Regions from separate parts of the Homo sapiens genome. Here regions 1, 2 and 4 are each linked to region 3. The links come from fine-mapping of genetic effects on gene expression. A gene starts in region 3. Each other region holds a variant in brackets. All regions are shown on one strand. Distances are from middle to middle.

What was found. PIP is the estimated chance that this variant, and not a neighbour inherited with it, causes the effect.
Region 1: its variant is the best candidate, but not a certain one, in a credible set for the expression of AKT1 in lung (TOPMed, PIP 0.70).
Region 2: its variant is the best candidate, but not a certain one, in a credible set for the expression of AKT1 in nasal epithelium (TOPMed, PIP 0.77).
Region 4: its variant is the best candidate, but not a certain one, in a credible set for the expression of AKT1 in whole blood (INTERVAL, PIP 0.57).

What each region holds. Positions count from the first base shown.
Region 1 is chr14:104,762,204-104,767,977 of GRCh38, reverse strand. It overlaps LOC107987209 (a long non-coding RNA gene), which reads left to right and starts at 1,029. Exons shown (of 3, transcript XR_001750915.3): 1 at 1,029-1,135. LOC102723342 (a long non-coding RNA gene) reads right to left here and starts at 3,163. Exons shown (of 3, transcript XR_429419.5): 1 at 1,081-3,163; 2 at 1-114. RefSeq lists an enhancer at 1-431. The variant T/C (reference allele first, on the strand shown) is at 3,119.
Region 2 is chr14:104,732,618-104,737,617 of GRCh38, reverse strand. ADSS1 (adenylosuccinate synthase 1) reads right to left here. Exons shown (of 13, transcript NM_152328.5): 2 at 2,496-2,598. LOC124903396 (a long non-coding RNA gene) reads left to right here and starts at 104. Exons shown (of 3, transcript XR_007064365.1): 1 at 104-340; 2 at 1,003-1,093; 3 at 2,477-3,050. The variant A/G (reference allele first, on the strand shown) is at 2,359.
Region 3 is chr14:104,793,547-104,798,546 of GRCh38, reverse strand. It overlaps AKT1 (AKT serine/threonine kinase 1), which reads left to right and starts at 2,799. Exons shown (of 15, transcript NM_001382430.1): 1 at 2,799-3,063. RefSeq lists enhancers at 105-877, 878-1,650, 3,692-4,333, 4,334-4,973, 4,974-5,000 and silencers at 2,488-2,847, 3,028-3,077, 3,108-3,427.
Region 4 is chr14:104,833,325-104,839,098 of GRCh38, reverse strand. It overlaps the pseudogene RPS2P4. Among named protein-coding and RNA genes, the nearest start is that of VESTAR, 15 kb to the right of the region's middle. RefSeq lists a silencer at 3,339-3,607. The variant C/T (reference allele first, on the strand shown) is at 2,900.

The sequences.
Region 1 (5,774 bases), 31 kb after region 3:
TGTTGTTCAGGCCGGTCTTGAACTCCGGGCCTCAAGTGATCCTCCTGCCTTGTCCTCCCAAAACGTTGGGATTATAAGGTGTGAGCCACCACACCTGGCCTCTTAGGGATAGTTCTATAGTCCAGAGAGAGAGAGGCTTCAACGTCATTGGCATTAATACAGACATGACCCTGTGTTATGTCCCCGTTACAAGTGGCTGAGGACCTAACAAAATGAACGCAGAAATGGAGACCCTCTGAGAATTTCCCGACCCTCCTAGCAGCCCCAGACAGAACCATCTACAGCAGGAGGCAGCATCCCAGGAGTGGGGTGGAGGGTGTCAGTGAGGGGTGAGATGTGCAAGGAGATGCACATCTCAGAGAGGAAACTCCAGGAGGTGCAGGTGCCCTTGCAAGGGGCAGTCCAGTCCTGGCCAGCGAGGCCAGAGCGGGTGGAGAGGGCCAGGATCCTGCAGCCCCAACAGGGCCTGCCGAACAGCGAGGGCTGTCTGGAGAGGTTGTAACAGGAATACGCCAACCAAGAGGAAGCTCTCCTTCCTGTGTCAGAGGTACCCCGAAGGAAACAATGCATAAAGTGTCCATTTCCAAGACAAAGTGCCTAAAATCAGCTTAGGTCAGCAAACTACGGAAGCAACAGGATATACTAGGCCCCTGCTTGGATAGCCAACGCCTGTTTGTCACCGCCAGCCCCCGTCCCTTAGTTTCCCTCACCTGAACCAAAGTTTAGTCTAAAATGAAAGTTTACTAGCCTCCAAAATAGCTCGCTTTGTCTGTTCGTATCAGCCTGCCCAGCTACTTAGGTCAGAAGTCAAATATTTGAAGAGCCCCTGAGCTAACTAGGATTGCAATGCATTGTGGGCTGCAACAGAATGCAGCAAGACAACTCTAAAGAAAACACCTAAAGCCCCTGCCCAACAACCAATAGGTGACGTCCAGGAAGGTTGTGACCCCATAGTACTCAGCCTATGAAGAACCGGGGGAGGGACCTGCACACTAGGGGATAAATTGCTTGTTGAAACTGTGCTGGGTGTGCCAGCTCATCAGGCACCCAATCTTGCAAGACTATCATTAAAAGTCTCACTTTTGCTGTTCTCCGGTCTCTGAGGTCTCTGAGTCCATTCTTCGGGTGTGGATGGGTGAGTTTGTTTCTCACATGCCCACATCATGCTCTTTCCAGCACAAGGCCGGCCTGGAAGGGAGGAAGATAATAAAAGTGACTTGAGCACTTAGACCTCCCATGTTTCAGCAGGTGTGGGTAACTGAAGGCTCTGCAGGTCTCTGGGTCTGGGGGCCTCAATGTTGTAGACGAGGTCCCAGGAGCTGAGAGTGCTACTGGGGCATGTCAGGATAAGGGCTAGGCCTGCCTTCCCAGAAGATGTCACTTCCAGTGAATGTCTGTTCAAAGGCTGACTTTATCATACAACAGATAATTATTTCATCCTTTTGCTTCTAGCAAGTCTGGGAAAGAGCTACAGAAGGGGCTGACAGCATGTAGGGTTTTTGTTGTTATTTAAAAAAAAAAGTCTAACAATCATTGCCCATTAATTAAGGTGTCTAGACCATTTACATTTAATGCAACTATTGATATGGTTGAGCTTAAATGTACTATCTTGCTCTTTTTCTATACATTCCATTTGTTCTTTGTTCCTCCTTTCCTTTCCTTTTTTTGTATTAAATAAGTATTGCCGATTGTCTCATTTTATCTCCTTTATTGGCTTATTTTTTGGATTTTACCAGTTTTCCCACTGATGTTCTTTTTCTATTCCAGTATACACATACAATCCAGGATACTGTGTTGCATTTAGAATAAATATATTTTGAATAAATGAATGAATGTAGCTCCCCAGCCCTCTGGGGATTTCATATACGTGAGATCATGCAGTGTTTGTCTTTTTGTGTCTGGCTTATTTCACTCAGTCATAGTATCTTTAAGGTTCATTTGTGTTGTAGCATGTCAGAATTTTATTTCTTTTTAAGGCTGAATACTATTTTATTGCATGTATAGACCACATTTTGTTTATTCATTTGTCCTGTGATGAACATTTGGGTTGTTTCCATCTTTTGGCTACTGGGGATAATGCTGCTACAAACTTGTGTACAAATACCTGTTCACGTCCCTGCTGTCAATTATTTTGTGTCTGTACCCAGAAGTGGAATTGCTGGATCAAACAGTAATTCTGTGTTCAGTTTTAATTTTCCTTTCATTTTTTTGAGACATAGTCTCACTATGTTGCCCAGGCTGGTCTCAAACTCCTGGGCTCAAGTGATCCTCCTGTCTCAGCCTTCCAAACCACTAGGATTACAGGCATTAGCCACTGTGCCAGGCTTATGTTTAGTGTTTTGAGGAACTGCCTACTGTTTTCTGCACTGGCTGCACCATTTCACATTCCCACCGGCAGTGCACAAATGTTCCAATTTCTCCATATCCTCCCCGACACTTGTTTTATTTTCAAATAGTAGCTATCTTGATGGGTGTGAGGTGGTATCTCATTGTGGTTTTGATTTGCATTTCCCTGATAATCAGTGATGTTGAGCATCTTTTCATGTGTGTGCTGTTTTTATATATTCTTTGGACAAATGTTTACTCAAGTCCTTTGCCCATTTTTGGATTTTTTTTTTAATTGCTGCGTGTTAGGAGTTCTTTATGTATAGATGGTCCCTGACTTACAATGGTTAAACTTATAATTTTTCAACTTTACAATGTTGCAAAAGCTATACACATTCAGTATGCTCCTTAACAATATTTTCTTTTTTTTTTTTTTTTTTTTTTTTGAGACGGAGTCTCGCTCTGTCACCCAGGCTGGAGTGCAGTGGCGCGATCTCGGCTCACTGCAAGCTCTGCCTCCTGGGTTCATGCCATTCTCCTGCCTCAGCCTCCCGAGTAGCTGGGACTACAGGAGCCTGCCAACACGCCCGGCTAATTTTTTGTATTTTTAGTAGACACGGGGTTTCACTGTGTTAGCCAGGATGGTCTCTATCTCCTGACCTCGTGATCCACCCGCCTCGGCCTCCCAAAGTGCTGGGATTACAGGCATGAGCCACTGCGCCTGGCCCTTAACAATATTTTCAACTCGTGATGGATTTATCTGGATGTAACCCATTGTAAGCTGAGGAGCATC[T/C]GTATAGACAATTAAAAAAAATTTTTTTTTTTCTTTGAGACAGAGTCTCGCTCTGTCACCCAGGCTGGAGTGCAATGGCGCGATCTAGGCTCACTGCAACCTCTGCCTCCGAGGTTCAAGCGATTCTCCTGCCTCAGCCTCCTGAGTAGCTGGGATTACAGGCGCCCACCACCATGCCCAGCTAATTTTTTTTTTTTTGTATTTTTAGTACAGACAGGGTTTTACCATGTTGGTCAGGCTGGTCTCGAACTCCTGACCTCAGGTGATCTGCCAGCATCAGCCTCCCAAAGTGCTGGGATTACAGGCATGAGCCACCACGCCTGGCCTTTTTTAAAATTAAGATAGTCTTGCTCTGTTGCCCAGGCTGGAGTGCAATGGCGCGATCTCGGGTCACTGCAACCTCTGCCTCCTGGGTTCAAGGGATTCTCCTGCCTCAGCCTCCTCAATAGCTGGGATTACAGGCGTGCGCCGCCACCACACCTGGCTAATTTTTGTATTTTTAGTAGAGATGGGTTTTTGCCATGTTGGCCAAACCTTGAACTCCTGACCTCAGGTGATTCGCCTGCCTCAGCCTCCCAAAGTGTTGGAATTACAGGTGTGAACCACTGCAGCTGGCCTAGGCAATTGTCTTTTAAAGAGATTATATATATACATATTTAAAGACAGGGTCAGCTGGGCGCAGTGGCTCATGCCTGTAATCCCAGCACTTTGGGAGGCCGAGGTGGGCAGATCACGAGGTCAGGAGATTGAGACCATCCTGGCTAACACGGTGAAACCTCGTCTCTACTAAAAATACAAAAAATTCACCGAGCGTGGTGGCGGGCACCTGTAGTCCCAGCTACTCAGGAGGCTGAGGCAGGAGAATGGCATGAACCCGGGAGGCAGAGCTTGCAGTGAGCCGAGATCAGGCCACTGCACTCCAACCTGGGTGACAGAGCAAGACACTGTCAAAAAAAAAAATAATAAATAAAATAAAATAAAGACAGGGTCTTGCCATGTTGCCCAGGCTGGCTTTGAACCCCTATCAAGTGATTCTCCCAGCTTAATCTCCTGAGTAGCTGGGACAACAGGCACTTTTAAAAATCAGAAAAAACCCTGCCTTTTGTGTCCTCCCAAACAGTGACCATTTCAGGTGCTCGTCATATCTTTGTGTACAAGCAGTTTCCATCTGGTGTCATTTTCCTTCTGCCAGAAAAACTTCTTTTGACAATTTTTGTAAATCTTCCAGCTTTGTATGTCTGAAAAGTCTTTATTTCACCTTCACTTTTGAAAGATATTTTCACTGGGTATAGAATTCCAGGTTGACATTCTTTTCTTTCAAAACTAAATTTGGATAAATGTTTATTCAAGCTGGGCTTGGGATTACAAATCCCAGCACTTTGGGAGGCTGAGGTAGGCAGATCACCTGAGGTTGGGAGTTTGAGACCAGCCTAACCGACATAGAGAAACCCCGTCTCCACTAAAAATACAAAATTAGGCAGGCATGGAGGCGCATGCCTGAAATCCCAGCTATTTGGGAGGCCGAGGCAGGCGAATTGCTTGAACCAGGGAGGCGGAGGTTGTGGTGAGGCGAGATCGTGCCACCGCACTCCAGCCTGGGCAACAAGAGCGAAACTCCATCTCAAAAAAATAAATAAATAAGTTTATTCAAGTTCTTTGCCCAACCCACAGGTGTTGTTCACTGTCTGCTTGCAGTTTCTAGTGAGAAGTCTTGCTGCCATTCTTTGTTCCTGTAAACACAAAGTGTCTTTTTTCTCTGGCTGCTTTTTTTTATTTGTCACTGGTTTGGAGGAATTTCATGATGATGTGCTTCATGTAATTTTCTCCATGTTTCTTTTGGGGTTTGTTGAGCTTCCTGGATCTGTGGCTTTATGTTTCCACCAAATTAGGAAATTTTACAGTCATTATTTTATTTATTTATTTATTTAGAGATGGAGTTTCGCTCTTGTTGCCCAGGCTGGAGTGCAATGGCACAATCTCAGCTTGCTGCAACCTCCGCCTCCCGGGTTCAAGCGATTCTCCTGCCTCAGCCTCCCAAGTAGCTGGGATTATAAGCACCTGCCACCACGCCTGGCTAATTTTTGCATTTTTAGTAGAGACAGGGTTTCACCATGTTGGCCAGGCTGGTCTCAAACTCCTGACCTCTGGTGATCCGCCAGCATCAGCTTCCCAAAGTGTTGAGATTACAGGCGTGAGCCACCACGCCCGGCCTGCCGTTATTTTTTCCAAAAGTTGTCTCCACCCTGCTATGCCCCTCGTCCATGGGTCTCCAGTTAAAGGCACAGTAGGCTGCTTGAAGTGGTCCCACAACTCAGAGGGGCTCTGCCATTTTCCTCATTTTTTTTCTGTTCCCTTTTGGATAGCTTATATTGCAATGGCTTCAAGTCCACTAATTTTTTGCTCTGCAATGTCTATTTTGGTTTTAATCTCATCAGTGTATTTTCCATCTCAGACATTGTATTTTTGTCTCTGGAAATTGTTTGGGCCATTTTTATGTCTTTCATTCCTTTTCTTAACATGCTCCTGTTTTCGTCTATCCTTCTTAATAATGGCCATTCTGATGTCCCTGTCTACTTAGTAGACGGAATTATTCTACCACCTTGTGTCATTTCTGGGTCTGTTTCTACAGACTAACTTTTCTTCTCATTGTGTGGTA
Region 2 (5,000 bases), 61 kb after region 3:
TGGTGATGGATGCAAAACACATTCCTCGGTATTTAAGGAGCTGGAAATTGATGTCCCTGCAGAAACCTGCGCGTAGATGTGCAGCTCTATTCATAATCGCCGAAACTCGGCAGCAGTCAAGAGGCCCATCAGTAAACAAAAGGAGAAATCAACTGTGGTCCATCCAGACAGTGGAGTATTATTCAACACTGAAAAGAAATGAGCTTTCAAGCCATGAAAAGACATAGAGGAAAGTTAAATGCATGTTACTGAGTGAAAGAAGCCAATCCGAAAAGGCGACATACTGTACAATTCCAACTCTGAGATTCTGGAAAAGGCAAAACTGAGGAGACAGCATAAGGTGAGTGGCTGCCGAGGGTTGAGGGGGGAGAGATGAATGAAATGGGTGGAGCTCGGGGGTTTTAGGACAGTAAAAAATTCTGTACGATACTATAGTGGCAGATACACAGCATACGTTTGTCCAGACTGGTAGAATGTACAGCACCAAGTGTGAACCCAGAGGTGACTATGTACTCTGGGTGATCATGACCTGTCAGTGTAGGTTCATCGATTGTCACAAATGCACCGCTCTGGTGGGGCATGGTGGCTCATGCCTATAATCCCAACATTTTGTGATGCTGAGGCAGGAGGATTGCCTGAGGCCAGGAGTTGGAGGCCAGCCTGGGTAACACAGCAAGACTCCATTTCTAAAAAAAAAAAAATGCATATATATATATATATATATATATATATATATCAGCTAGGTGCGGTGGCATAAGCCTGTAGTCCTGGCTACTTGGGAGACAGAGGCAGGGGGATCCCCTGGGCCCAGTAGGTTGAGGCTGCAGTGAGCCAGGACTGTGCCATTGCATTCCAGCCTGAGTGACACAGCCAGACCCTGTCTCAAAATAAACAAAAAACAAAAAAACACAAATACACTCCTGAGCTCTAAACCCCTTGCTTGAAGATGAAGCCTTCAGAAACCCCTGCTGCCTCCCCAAGGAACCCCTTTCCCTTTGCCAGTTCCCGCTGAGGCTGGCCATGGCACAGGCTCAGCTGAGGGAGACGGGACTTCAGTCCAGACGAGAGTGACCCGGAGACGACGCAAGCCATGGTGAGCACAAAAGGTCACCCAAATGCCACGGCATCCTGAAATAAACACGCGGCAGAGGCCCGGAGTGTTGCAAGCTCAGGGTGTCTGTGTGAGCCCTGGCACGTCCTGCCGCTTGCTAAGCGGTGCCTCTTTGGCCTTGTTTCCTGCCATGTGGGGCCCAGGGCTGGGCAGGACGAGGCTGGCGGCTGGAGAAGGGCTTCCTGCAGCACAACCCGGAGCGGCCAGCCAGCGCTACTGCCCAGTCTGCCAGGGCTAGGGGCTCCTGCGACATGGCGGGCAGGCCACCTCACTGCTTAGGGCCTCCCTGCTGTGAACTAGGGACCGCCCCCACACTGTCCTGGCCCCACTGCTGGGAGGGCCAGGGACTGGGTCTGCACCCCAGGGGATGGTCTTGGGTGAGTCACTCCAGCTCAGCCCCTGACCACACATGGCCCCTGCGGCAGCCACCTCCGCGCTATCTTCCTCCCTCTGCTCACATTGAATGGGTCCAGGCCCATGCATCTGCTGGGCACACACCTGAGGCGCCTGACCCCCACTTCCTGACGGGCTGGGAAGGGGTCAGATACATCACAAGGATGGCCTTGCTGAAGTCTGGAAACAGCTGGAAGGGAAAGTACAAGAAGGGGCCTGGCTGGCTTGGCCACTGGGATCAGGAAAAGCTTCTCTGAGCAAGGGGGTTTTGGGCTAAGAGCTGAGGCCAGGGTGCACAGAGCAGGCTTCTGACCGAGAGAAGGAGGGAAAGAGCCACGGAACCCTGGGGACAGAGGTGGCTCGCCTCTTGGAGCACTGAGTGGTCACAGGTGGCTGCAGGGGAGGAGCTGTGTCCGGACCCAGGAGGGGGCAGGCGATGTGGAAGGAGGTCCCTCTGCAGCACGGACTGGGAAGGGGCTGGAACCAGGCCTGCCACGTGGCCACAGCAGCCCAGGCAAGAGGACGGCCACATGGCTCGGCAGGGCCGGGGAGGGCACGGCCTTGTCCACACAGCCTGGTCGCCACGCAGCGAGAAGCCAGGCCTGTCGCAAGCACATACTCACTCACAGGTATGCACATGGAGTCACGGGCACATGGGCGTGTGGTCTCCATGCCCACACAGGAAGTATGTGCATGTGAGGGATCAGGGATCAGGGATCAGGGATCAGGCACTCCCGCTCCTGCGCGGTGGATGTGACTCTGCCCCTCCTCCCATCAGCCCTGTGTCCTCTCAGCTGCGTTCCCAGCCCAGGCCCGGGCTATGCAGGTTTCTGTGCACCAGTGCCTGGTGGGGC[A/G]GGTGGAGGCTGGGGTCCAGCCTACTGCTAGAGCAGTCATCACCAGGCTCTGGTGCCCCGTGCCCCCATGCGTGGGGCTCCTGGGCTGGCTGACACCCCCTTTCCTGCTCACACACAGGTCGGGGCAGGGCACTCACCAATGAAGGACACGGCCTTGGTGTTGATGATGCCGCTGGGCAGCAGGTGGAAGTCGTACTCTTTCCCATCCACCACCACCGTGTGGCCGGCGTTGTTGCCCCCCTGGAACAGAAACCCGGCTGAGCTGAAGGCACTTGGGTACTGAGGACCCCCCGGACATGGACTGACCCACATGGGGCTTCGTCTGTCCCTGCAGGGCACTGCTGTTGGATTTTGGGGTGTCTGGTTTGGTGGCCAGCTCTGATGCGTCTGTGCGGGACTGGGATGTGGGCATCCTGCACCTTGGAAGGAGGGCAGCAGTTTGGTCAGGGGCCTGGGTCGGGGAGGGTCTGGCCCAGGCTGGTGCCAACACCTCCAGGTGGCTTGGTGCAGGTCTCTGCAGCTGCGGGCCCCGCTCTGGAGCTCGCTCCTCTCATGCAGGAATGAGGAGGCCTAACCCTCCCACAGAACATGAATTCAGCACCCCCACGGCCAAACCTGCCCTCACCCACTTTAGCAGAAACCCTTCCCTTTGGGCAGGCACCTCCCGTCTAAGAATGAAAAAGAAAAAGCCATTCTGAGCCAGCCCTGTTCTGGGAAACACCCAGCCACAGGCTCCCCTCTCTGGGGGGATTCCTGCTGATGGTGGGGAGAGGGCCTGGGACTAGCATGTGCAGGCTCCAATCCCCCTCCTGCCATGAGACAGCCACATGATACAAGCAAACTGTGCCACGCCCTGGATGCCACTGCCTTCGCTTCCCCAAGGGCCTCTTGTGCCAGTGGAAGCTAGAGGATAAGCTAGGGACCCTCTCCAGGTGGGGCAAGAACCAAAGCCCTCCTGCCTTTTGCTTGGCTCTGCTCAGCAGGGCACAGGTCCAGTGGGTGTCCCCTGCTGCCCCCACCCTCTGCTCCTGCAGGGCAGGTGGGCTGGTGGCATGATGGATACAGGGACACTCCAGTCCCAAGGCACGGCTGATAGGGCTCCCCTACGTGCAGGCAGGAGGCCCCGCTTCACAGCTGAGGAAGAGGCAGCATCTCTGATGGCCCATGATGGCTCATTGCCCCTGAAGCCAGGCCCCCACCAACGGCAAGGGATATCCCTACAGCACCTTTTGGTCTTTATGCCACCATAAGAGACCCCTGTAGGCCCAGTGTGACAGAGCCTGGAGGGAGCCCCAGAAGGTCTCTGCCCCAGGAGAGAAGGCCAGGTCTCCAGCCCCACTTCTGGCCAGCCACTGGATGGCATGGGGGACCCTTCCTGTTGCCCTCTCTCCTTGAGCTCCACCTGGAGGGTAAGCAGGGTCCCGGTGGGGTTGCGGGGGGCCACACACGGATACCCTGCCCCACAGACTGGTCTGGTCTCTCCTTCACTACTTCCCTTTTGGGGCCCACTCTGTCCCCAGGACCCCAGAGCCCAGATCCAGCCCCACCTTCCTGCCTCACCTCCCGGCAGAAAAGCCCTCAACTTGTCTACGCATGGGGGATTCTCCCAGCCACACCCCACTGCTCTCTGCCCGGCAGAGGGGTCTCAGCTCCCCTCCCACCCTCACAAGCCTGGCAGTGGGGTGTCTCACATAGCCTTTCCCCGCCTGCCCAAGCAGGACCCTCCGTGATGGCGGCCCCCTCCCTCTGCACTAGCTCCTCACGATGCATCTGGACAAGAGTTACACGGAAACAGCCCCGGCGCCTCGTGGCAGGGCAACCCTGGGGACAGAGGGGGGGCAGATCCAGAGATGCCAGGCAGGGGGCTCACCCTCCTGGGACGTAACTTCACACACTGGCAGATTAGGCAGCACTCAGAGCCCTGAAGCCCCTTCGCAGGGCAGGAGTCCCCACCTCCACGCCCTGACTTCTGCCTGGCCCTGCCTGGCTGGGCCCAGTCCTTATAGGAAACCAGTTCAGGACAGTGGCTCTGGGCGGGGCGGTGCTGGGTGAACTGGGTGGGGATCCTGGGAGGTGGAGAGATGCAGGAAGCCTGGTGGCAGGAGGGAGGGTGGTCTGAGGGCACCTGGAGGCCTTGTGGGAGCTAATGCTGCCAGGCGCCAAGGCAGGGTGGGGGTGGAGGGTCAGGGTACTTCTGCAGCCTGGGCGGATGGGCAGGGCTCTCAGCCTGTGCTGCTCAGCAGACGCTGAGTCAGCCCTGGGCGCACAGGTTCAGTCCATCGGGACGGGGCAGGCCCTGGCGTGACTCGAACAGATTCTGGGTTTGGGGGTCACAGCACCCTCCTGGAGACCCCCACTCTTACTCTGTCCTTGCCTCGGCACATATGTGGTAATTCCTCTCCGCTGGGGTCATGGAGTACCTTCATGCCCACGACTGCATCTGCTGCCTTTTGGGGGCAGTCAGGGGTGAGGTCTCTGAGGACAGGTAGGGAAACTGAGAGAAGGGAAGCCTATCCCTTGTACACAGCCCCGCCTGGGCGGGGGGGCAGGCGTCGAGGGATGACCTGGCAGTCAGGCCAAGTGCTGCCTACCATGGCAGAGTGCCCAGTGCCCACGTCAACAGGCCCAGGAACGCCCTGCTA
Region 3 (5,000 bases):
TGCTTAAAAGTTGGCAGGACGCAAGTGGGTGTTCAGTAAATGTTTGTTGAGTGAATGTGTGACGGTTGCTTCTGTGAGTGATTACGATGGTCCCACCATCCCTAATCCTGACTCCTCTGTGGCAACATTCCAGCCCTGCCTGCCCACACCCCCAGCCCCTGAACCTTCAGAGCAAGTAGGGGTGGCCTGCCACACTGGGGCTCTGGGCAACAGGCTGACAGCTCCCCACTGCAGGCTGGGAGCAAGCACCCTAGCCTGCCCTGCCTGGCTGGCGGGACAGAGAGAGCCTGGACACTTAATGGGGGTTGTGGTACACAGGGAGGGTCAGGATGCTGCCTTCAGGAGCCTAGGGTAGGACCTGGAAGGAGGGCCCAGCTAGGAATGGGCTAGATGAAGGGGAGGGGACAGTGGGAGAGAAGCTCCTTATCCCTCTCAGGTCGGGATGTCTGGGTTCAAGTCCCTCCTGCCCCACACCGATCAGGGAAGGGGGGCTGTTCCAGGCAGAGACCGCCCAGAGTTGGTGCTGGGATCCTGGCCAGCCTGTAGTCCTCAGAGCCCCTGTGACTGGCTGGGTCTCAAGTGCAGGAATGACAGGACACCGTCACACAGCCACTGTCGCGGCGGTGGTGGTTCAGGCAGAACCTCTGCAGACTCAGGCGGCCATCTGGCCTGGGAGCTGCCCTGAGGCCCCGCCCTGCAGCTGCTGCTGGGACCTACACAGCCCAGGGCCCTCGAGTCCTGCCCCCGGCCAGCAGCTGCAGAAGGTGACAGGGCAGGAGGCCCCTGAGCTCTGGGAGGAGGCAGCCGTCGGGCCCTTCCCTGGTGCAGCAGTTTTTGTCGGAAACATCTGGCCACAGAGCACCTCAGCAGTCCCAGCAGCAGCCGTGGGGCTGGGTTCTCTCCTGACCATTCTGTCTGGGGTGGGAGGGGGTGTTCTTGAAGAGAGGACTCTGCTTTCCCTCTGGGACGCTGGAGGAGAGGGAGATGGCCCTGCCCACTGGGAGATCCCCGTCTTGGGGGAGGGCAGTTCATGCCAAGGTGAAGACAGGACTGGAGTGTGGGGCCCACAGTGGGTTGCAGGCACCAGCAGATGCCAGGGCACCAGGCTGGGAAGACTGGGAGGCCTCCTTGGAGACAGCCAGTGCAAAATAAGCAAGAGGTCCAACCACTTCAAGAACAGCCCGCAATGTCACTGCCTCTTCCATGAGAGGGTGCCCTGCTCCCTCCCACATCCCCAAGCCTCGGCCACTTGCTGGCCTTGTCTCATGGCCCTCTTACCCTCTGCTTCCTCCCTGAATTCCTTCCTCCATCCTTGCATGGCAGAGCCCAGGATGGTGGACAGATACCAGGAACTCTTCCTCGGGGAGCAGTGGGCAGGTGGGACAGTCCCAGAGGGAGCCCCAGGTGGCTCATGGTGCAGGTTTGCTGGGTGAGAGACAGACACCAGACGCCCAGGCTCTGGGGGCAACCCTTGTGTCAGGTATCCCACCCAAGCGGCGCAGACCACTGGGCCTCTGACTTGGCCCCCTGGAGGTGGGCCCTTCCTGGGGTTACAAAGTCTGAGCTGGGAGGGAGCAGAGGTGCTCAGGCGAGAGGCAGGAATGGGGAGTCCCCTGTCTGAGGAGCGAGTGCCCTCATGCAGGGGGAGAGAGTCCTTCTCTTGGTCAGCCCCAAGAGGCAGGGATGAAGCCCGAGTTTTGGCTGCAGACTCTGTCCTGAGCACTGGGCCGAACCTGCTGCCTCTGTCTGCATCTCCTCCCACCCCCTCCCCTGCTGCCAGCTGAACTCACTCTGGCTGAAAATAAAAATGCTCCCCCAACCCCAATACTTAGCAGCCTCAGGAAGGTAACTCACAAGAGTCTGTCTTTCACAAAAGGGTTATTATCAACTGTGGGCCTCTGGAATGGGGGAGGGGCAGTTGTCGGAGGAACTTCTGGCTAGGAAGGGGTCGGGGTGGCAGTCACCTGCACTCTCCTGTGAGTGTCCAGGAGAAAGGGGTCTGTGTCCCACTTACTCATTCCATACCCGGGCCATCTGCCTCCCAGTGGACTTCGGACTGGGTGTCCGGGCTGACCAAGTCCACCCAGCAGGGAGGGCTCTGGGCTGTCAGCTGTCACAGCCCACCCTAGACACCGCTCCTCCTCTGTCTGGTGTCTGCTCCCAGCTCAAGGTGGGAGCCAGGCAAGGTGTGCCCCTCTTCTCCCACTCCCCAGCAAAGTCCCCCTTTTGTGAGTGTAGCTGCCAGTACCTAGGTGAATGGTTGACTCCCCTCGGAGCCTTCCTGCTCCTTGGAGGCCCACCTCCAACTGACCTCCTGTCCTGGCATCCTCCCGCACTTCCCCCAGAGGCACAAGGTCTTGGGATTGGGCCTTTTAGGTCACTCTTGGCCGCCCCCTCCACGCCCCCCAGAGTGGGGCAGCCTGAAAGTCAACCTAAGCCACCCCCGCCCCGCGCGCGGAGGCAGAAGTCCGGGATTCGTCCCTGACCTGTCTCGGGCCCCTTCTGCTAGGGTCACGGCAGAGCGAGCCCAGAAGCGCCGGGTCACTTTACAGACGGGGAAACTGAGGCCAGAGAGGGCGTGGCCCCGGGACGGGCTGGCTGGTGGCCGGGCTCCGTTAGCGGCCCAGCCCAGGCCCCAGGTCGTCGGGAGCTGCCCCTCAGCCCGGCCGCGCGCTCCCCGAGCGCGCTCCGCCCTCGCCGCCGGCCGCGCGGTGGGGACGCCCCGGGCGGCGGAGGCGGATGTGGGCGGGCGGCTCCGGGCGCGGGGCGGGCGCGGGGCGGGGAGAGGGCGGGCCGGCGGCGGCGGCAGGACCGAGCGCGGCAGGCGGCTGGCCCAGCGCACGCAGCGCGGCCCGAAGACGGGAGCAGGCGGCCGAGCACCGAGCGCTGGGCACCGGGCACCGAGCGGCGGCGGCACGCGAGGCCCGGCCCCGAGCAGCGCCCCCGCCCGCCGCGGCCTCCAGCCCGGCCCCGCCCAGCGCCGGCCCGCGGGGATGCGGAGCGGCGGGCGCCGGAGGCCGCGGCCCGGCTAGGCCCGCGCTCGCGCCCGGACGCGGCGGCCCGGTGAGTCCCCGCCCGCCGTGGCCGCCCGGGCCTGGATTTCCTCCCCGCGGGCCGGGCCGCTTTGTTCGCGGCCGGTCGGGCCGGGGCGCGAGCCGCGGCGCCGCCAGAATGGAGGAGCGGGAGCAGGAAGTGGCCGAGCGGGCCTGGGCGGGGAGGGCGCGGGGCGCGCGGGCCCGGCCAAGGGAGGGCGGCCCCACGCCGGGCGCCGGGGGTGCAGGCTGCCGGCCCCAGCCTCCCTCATGACCTTGGGGAGGCCGCTCCGCCGGGCGAGGCCGGGACCCGAGAGAAGGGACGCCGCCGGGCCTGGAGCTGGGGCTCGGGGTGCCCCTGCGGGCCGTGGGGCTCCCCGGGCGCTGGGCCAGCGAGGCAGCCGGCGGAGGTGCCCCGGGGTTGGAGAAAGACTCGCCGCGGCCGGCCTTCAAGTTTGTGGGAGGGCCCCGGAAGGAGACTTCGTTTCCCACGGACGAAAAGTTGTACGTGGTGGCGGGGTACCCAGGCTAGCCACAAAGGACTGTGACCCTCCTGGGCCCCGGAACTGCTTCCTGTCTTGGGTGGGCCCTGGAGGTCCTGCCCGCCCATCCCAGAGGCCAAGGCTTGGAGGGCAGCTGGGGCTTGCCCCTTAGATTGAGTATCCTGGGGCGCTAGCGAGCTTGGTCCTGTCGGGACGGCCTCTGAGTGCTGCCTTGGTCAGCGGGTGAGCTTGGGCCCCTGCTCTGCAGCCAGAGGCCGCCCCACATTCACTCCTGGGTCTCTCGGCCTTGCTCCAGGTGGCCACTTCTTGACTGCTTTGAGTCCCTCATCCGAGCGAAGGGCGGACGGAGTCCGTTGGTGGGGGTCCGGTTGCCTCTCCCGGGAGCTGTGTAGACTTCTCATACACCAGGGTTCTGGAGGCAGATGGAGGAGCCCTTTCGAAAACAGAGTATTTTTTTTTAAGTTGTGACTTAATAATAGTAGCAAGAATATGTGCTTATGGTAAAGGCAGGCGGCAGGTACGGAGGCTGTGGGAAGTCGGGGTCCCTCCGCCCCCACAGGCAGCCCTGTGCTGGCCTGGTGTATACGTTTCTGTGCAGACGTACACCACCCTGTGTGAGCACAGATGTATTTTTACACATGGCTCTGGACAGCTGTCTGACTCTGTCAGCAGCAGGCCTTGGAGGGGCTCAGGCCCGTGTGGGGGTGGGGGGACATCCAGAGGTCTTTGAGTCCAGCCCTCTGCCTCCAGGCCACGCCCACTCAGTGTCGTCAGAGCCCCCTGTGCCTGAGGCGTGCGCGGCTCGGAGCCCTGCCCTCGGAGTCCTGCGGTGCCTTCCTCGAGTCTGGCCTGCTTTCCATCCTGCTAAGTACTTGGGGCATTTCCCTCTTTGGGTAAGGTGTGGTCTTCCCTGTCCTGGCATTAGACACAAGGCAGTGGGCCTTCCTGCCATTCTAAGTGTAGCTTAAGACAATCAGTGCAAAGCAACCCTTTGTGGGTGTCCAGCCCTTGCCTCGGGAGGCCAGAAAGGTGGCCTGGGGGGAGAGCGTCTAAGCTGGCTGTGGAAAGACCCATGTTGGGATCCATTCCACAGAGGTCGTCAGGGGTCTCTGCCTGGCCTGGAGGTCCCAGAGAGGACCCTCCTCCCCTCAGGAAGGCCCATCTGGAAGGGTAGCAGAGGACTGCTCACAGGAAGAGCATGCGAAGTGCTCTTTCTGGGGATGCCTGTAGTTGGTGATGTGGGAACTGGGTTTTGAGGGATGCCTAGGAGTTCATCCATCAGAGGGGAAATGAGGAAGCCATGCAGGATCAATGGATAAAGTGTGCTCAGGTGAGGGTTGGCTGGTGGGCCGCTGCAGGGCGGGGGCCTGTCCAGTGCTCCCCCACTTACTTGCTGCCTCCCGACTGCTGTAATTATGGGTCTGTAACCACCCTGGACTGGGTGCTCCTCACTGACGGACTTGTC
Region 4 (5,774 bases), 40 kb before region 3:
TATTTATGACAAACCCACAACCAATATCATACTGAATGGGCAAAAACTGGAAGCATTCCCTTTGAAAACCGGCACAAGACAAGGATGCCCTGTCTTACCACTCCTATTCAACATAGTGTTGGAAGTTCTGGCCAGGGCAATCAGGCAAGAGAAAGAAATAAAGGGTATTCAATTAGGAAATGAGGAAGTCAAATTGTCCCTGTTTGCAGATGACATGATTGTATATTTAGAAAACCCCATCATCTCAGCCCAAAATCTCCTTAAGCTGATAAGCAACTTCAGCAAAGTCTCTGGATACCAAATCGATGTGCAAAAATCACAAGCATTCCTATACATCATTAACAGACAAACAGAGAGTCAAATCATAAGTGAACTCCCATTCACAACTGCTACAAAGAGAATAAAATACCTAGGAATCCAACTTACAAGGGATGTGAAGGACCTCTTCAAGGAGAACTACAAACCACTGCTCAACGAAATAAAAGAGGACACAAACAAATGGAAGAATATTCCATGCTCATGGATAGGAAGAATCAATATCATGAAAATGGCCATATTGCCCAAAGTAATTTATAGATTCAATGCCATCCCCATCAAGCTACCAATGACTTTCTTTACAGAATTGGAAAAAACTACTTTAAAGTTCATATGGAACCAGAAAAGAGCCTGCATTGCCAAGACAATCCTAATTAAAAAGAACAAAGCTGGAGGCATCACGCTACCTGACTTCAAACTATACTACAAGGCTACAGTAACCAAAACAGCATGGTACTGGTACCAAAACAGATATATAGACCAATGGAACAGAACAGAGCCCTCAGAAATAACGCCGCATATCTACAACTATCTGATCTTTGACAAACCTGAGAAAAACAAGCATTGGGGAAAGGATTCCCTATTTAATAAATGGTGCTGGGAAAACTGGCTAGCCATATGTAGAAAGCTGAAACTGGATCCGTTCCTTACACCTTACACAAAAATTAATTCAAGATGGATTAAAGACTTAAATGTTAGACCTAAAACCATAAAAACCCTAGAAGAACACCTAGGCAGTACCATTCAGGACATAGGCATGGGCAAGGACTTCATGACTAAAACACCAAAAGCAATGGCAACAAAAGCCAAACTAGACAGATGGGATCTAATTAAACTAAAGAGCTTCTGCATGGCAAAAGAAACTACCATCAGTGTGAACAGGCAACCTACAGAATGGGAGAAAATTTTTGCAATCTACCCATATGACAAAGGGCTAATATCCAGAATCTACAAAGAACTCAAACAAATTTACAAGAAAAAAACAAATAACCCCATTAAAAAGTGGGCAAAGGATATCAACAGACACTTCTCAAAAGAAGACATTTATGCAGCCAACAGACACATGAAAAAATGCTCACCATCACTGGCCATCAGAGAAATGCAAATCAAAACCACAATGAGATACCATCTCACACCAGTTAGAATGGTGATCATTAAAAAGTCAGGACACAACAGGTGCTGGAGAGGATGTGGAGAAATAGAAACACTTTTACACTGTTGGTGGGAGTGTAAACTAGTTCAACCATTGTGGAAGACAGTGTGGTGATTCCTCAAGGATCTAGAACTAGAAATACCATTTGACCCAGTGATCCCATTACTGGGTATATACCCAAAGGATTATAAATCATGTTACTATAAAGACACATGCACACGTATGTTTATTGTGGTACTATTCACAATAGCAAAGACTTGGAACCAACCCAAATATCCATCAATGATAGACTGGATTAAGAAAATGTGGCACATATACACCATGGAATACTATGCAGCCATAAAAGAGGATGAGTTCATTTCCTTTACAGGGACATGAATGAAGCTGGAAACCATCATTCTCAGCAAACTATCACAAGGACAGAAAACCAAACACCACATGTTCTCACTCATAGGTGGGAATTGAACAATGAGATCACTTGAACACAAGGCGAGGAACATCACACACTGGGGCCTGTTGGGGGTTGGGGGGCTGGAGGGGGATAGATAGCATTAGGAGAAATACCTAATGTAAATGACGAGTTGATGGGTGCAGCACACCAACATGGCACATGTATACCTATGTATCAAACCTGCACGTTGTGCACATGTACCCTGGAACTTAAAGTATAATAAAAAAATTTAAAAAACAATAAAAAGAATTTTTAAAAAGAGTAGAATGGCGCTTCTTGTCTGAGAAAACACCAAATGGCGGATGACGCCGGTGCAGGGGGGGGGGGGGGGGGTGCCGGAGGCCCTGGTGGCCCTGGGATGGGGAACCGTGGTGCCTTCCGCGGAGGTTTCGGCAGTGGCATCCGGGGCCGGGGTCGCGGCCGTGGACGGGGCCAGGGCCAAGGCTGCGGAGCTCGCGGAGGCAAGGCTGAGGATAAGGAGTGGATGCCTGTCACCAAGCTGGGCCGCTTGGTCAAGGAGATGAAGATCAAGTCCCTGGAGGAGATCTATCTCTTTTCCCTGCCCATTAAGGAATCTGAGATCATTGACGTTTTCCTGGGGGCCTCTCTCAAGGATGAGGTTTTGAAGATTATGCTGGTGCAGAAGCAGACCCGTGCCGGCCAGCGCACCAGGTTCAAGGCGTTCTTTGCTATCGGAGACTACAATGGCCACGTCGGTCTGGGTGTTAAGTGCTCCAAGGAGGTGGCCACCGCCATCCGTGGGGCCATCATCCTGGCCAAGCTCTCCATTGTCCCTGTGCACAGAGGCTACTGGGGGAACAAGATCGGCAAGCCCCACACCGTCCCTTGCAAGGTGACAGGCCGCTGCGGCTCTGTGCCGGCGCGCCTCATCCCTGCACACGGGGGCACTGGCATCGTCTCCGCACCTGTGCCCAAGAAGCTGCTCATGATGGCTGGTATCGATGACTGCTACACCTCAG[C/T]CCGGGGCTGCACTGCCACCCTGGGCAACTTCGCCAAGGCCACCTTTGATGCCATCTCTAAGACCTACAGCTACCTGACCCCCAACCTCTGGAAGGAGACTGTATTCACCAAGTCTCCCTATCAGGAATTCACTGACCACCTCGTCAAGACCCACACCAGAGTCTCCGTGCAGTGGACCCAGGCTCCTGCTGTGGCTACAACATAGGGTTTTTATACAAGAGAAGTAAAGTGAATTAAGCCTGAAAAAAAAAAAAAGAGTAGAATGGCAACTCACAAAATGAGATATTTGCAAATCCTATATCTGATAGGATATTAATATGCAGCATATTAGAATTGCTGTAACTCCGAAACAAAAACTCCCTAAACAACCTAATTTACAAATAAACAAAGTACTTGAATGGACCTTTCCCCAAAGAAGACAGATAAATGGTCAACAAGCACACACAAAAAATGTTCAACATCATCAGTCACTAGGGAGATGCAAAATAAAACCACAATGAAATACCATGTCACACCCATTGGGATGGCTATAATTTTTTCAAAAGAAGCAAAATAACAAATGCTGGTAAGGGTAGTAAGAAATTAAAACCCTTGGCCGGGCACAGTGGCTCATGCCTGTAATCCCAGCACTTTGCGAGGCGAGCGGATCACGAGGTCAGGAGATCGAGACCATCCTGGCTAACACGTGAAACCCCGTCTCTACTAAAAAATACAAAAAATTAGCCGGACGTGGTGGCGGGCACCTGTAGTCCCAGCTACATGGGAGGCTGAGGCAGGAGAATGGCGTGAACCTGGGAGGCGGAGCTTGCAGTGAGCCGAGATGGGGCCACTGCACTCCAGCCTGGGCTACAGAGCAAGACTCCGTCTCAAAAAACAAAGAAACAAAAAAAGAACTGAAAAGGAGGAATCACACAGATACTTGCTCACCGATGTTCATAACGCATTATTTACAATAGCCAAATGTGGAAACAAGCCAAGTATCCATCAACAGATAAAAGAATAAACAAAATGTGGTCTAAACACATAAATGGAATATGCTTCAGCCATAAGAAGGAATGAAGTTCTGAGGCATGCTACAATATGGGAGAATTTGAAAACATTCTACTAAGTGAAATAAGCCAGACATTAAAGTTCCAATATTATATGATTCCACTTATATGACACATCTGGAATAGGCAAGTTTATAGAGACAGAAACTAGAATAGAGGTTACCAGGCCTAGAGGGAAGGGAGGGAGAGGGACTTATTGCTTAATGGGCACAGAATTTGGGATGACAAAAAAGTTCTGGAAATAGTGGTGATGATTACATAACATTGTGGATGTACTTAATGCCACTAAATTGTACACTTAAAACGGTTATAGTGGTAAATTTTTGTTTGTTTGTTTGGTTTTGAGATGGAGTCTCGCTCTGTCGCCCAGGCCACGGTGCAGTGGCACAATCTCAGCTCACTACAGCCTCCACCTCCTGGGTTTAAGCAATTCCCCCTGCCTCAATCTCCCAAGTAGCTGGGGTTACAGGCGCTCGCCACCACGCCTGGCTAATTTTTTTTGTATTTTTTAGGAGGGACGGGGTTTCACCATGTTGGCCAGGCTGGTCTTGAACTCCTGACCTCAGGTGATCAGCCCACCTTGGCCTCCCAAAGTGCTGGGATTACAGGCGTGACCCACCACGCCTGGGCAAAATTTATGTTATGTAAATTTTACCTCAATAAAACATAAATTTGAAAATATATATAGCAAAAGAAATGACAAAAGAATTAAATGGAGGCTGGCCGTGGTGGCTCACGCCTGTAATCCCAGCACTTTGGGAGGCCAAGGCAGGTGGATCACGAGGTCAGGAGTTCGAGACCAGCCTAACCAATATGGAGAAAACCCGTCTCTACTAAAAATACAAAAAAAAATTAGCCAGGGGTGGTGGCACCCACCTGTAGTCCCAGCTACTCGGGAGGCTGAAGCAGAAGAATTGCATGAACCTGGGAGGTGGAGCTTGCAGTGAGCCAAGATTGTGTCACTGCACTCCAGCCTGGGCAACAGAGCGAGACTCTGTCTCAAAAAAAAAAAAAAAAAAAGAATTAAATGGCACATTAGAGAATATATATTTAACACAAAAGAAGCAATATGGAGGAATAGAGGAGGAACAAAACAGGCAAGACAGAGAGAAAACAAATAGCACAATGGCAGACCTCAATCCCACCACTGGTAATTATAGTAAATATTAATATATTAAACACTAATTAAAAGAAAAAGATTGGCAGAATAGATTTAAAAAACATAATCCAACTATATCTGCTAGGTATAAAACATGATGGCTACTAGAGACACAGTTTAGATTCAGACACAATATCTTAAAAGTAAAATGACAGGAGGCCGGGCGCGGTGGCTCATGCCTGTAATACCAGCAATTTGGGAGGCCGAGGCGGGCGGATCATGAGGTCAGGAGATCGAGACTATCCTGGCTAACACGGTGAAACCCCGTCTCTACTAAAAATACAAAAATTAGCTGGGCGTGGTGGCGGGCACCTGTAGTCCCAGCTACTCGGGAGGCTGAGGCAGGAGAATGGCGTGAACCTGGGAGGCAGAGCTTGCAGGGAGCCAAGATTGCACCACTGCACTCCAGCCCGGGCGACAGAGCGAGACTCCGTCCAAAAAACAAAGTAAAATGACAGGAAAAGATATAACATTCAAACAGCAACTCAAAGAGAGGTGGAGTTCCTCTACTAATATTAGAAAATATAGATATTAAGACAAAAATTATTGTTAGAGACAAAGAAGGATGTGTTATAATGATAAGAGGGTGATCCATAAGGAAGATATAATAACTAGAAACACATATGCACTGGCTGGGCACGGTGGCTCATGCCTGTAATCTCAGCA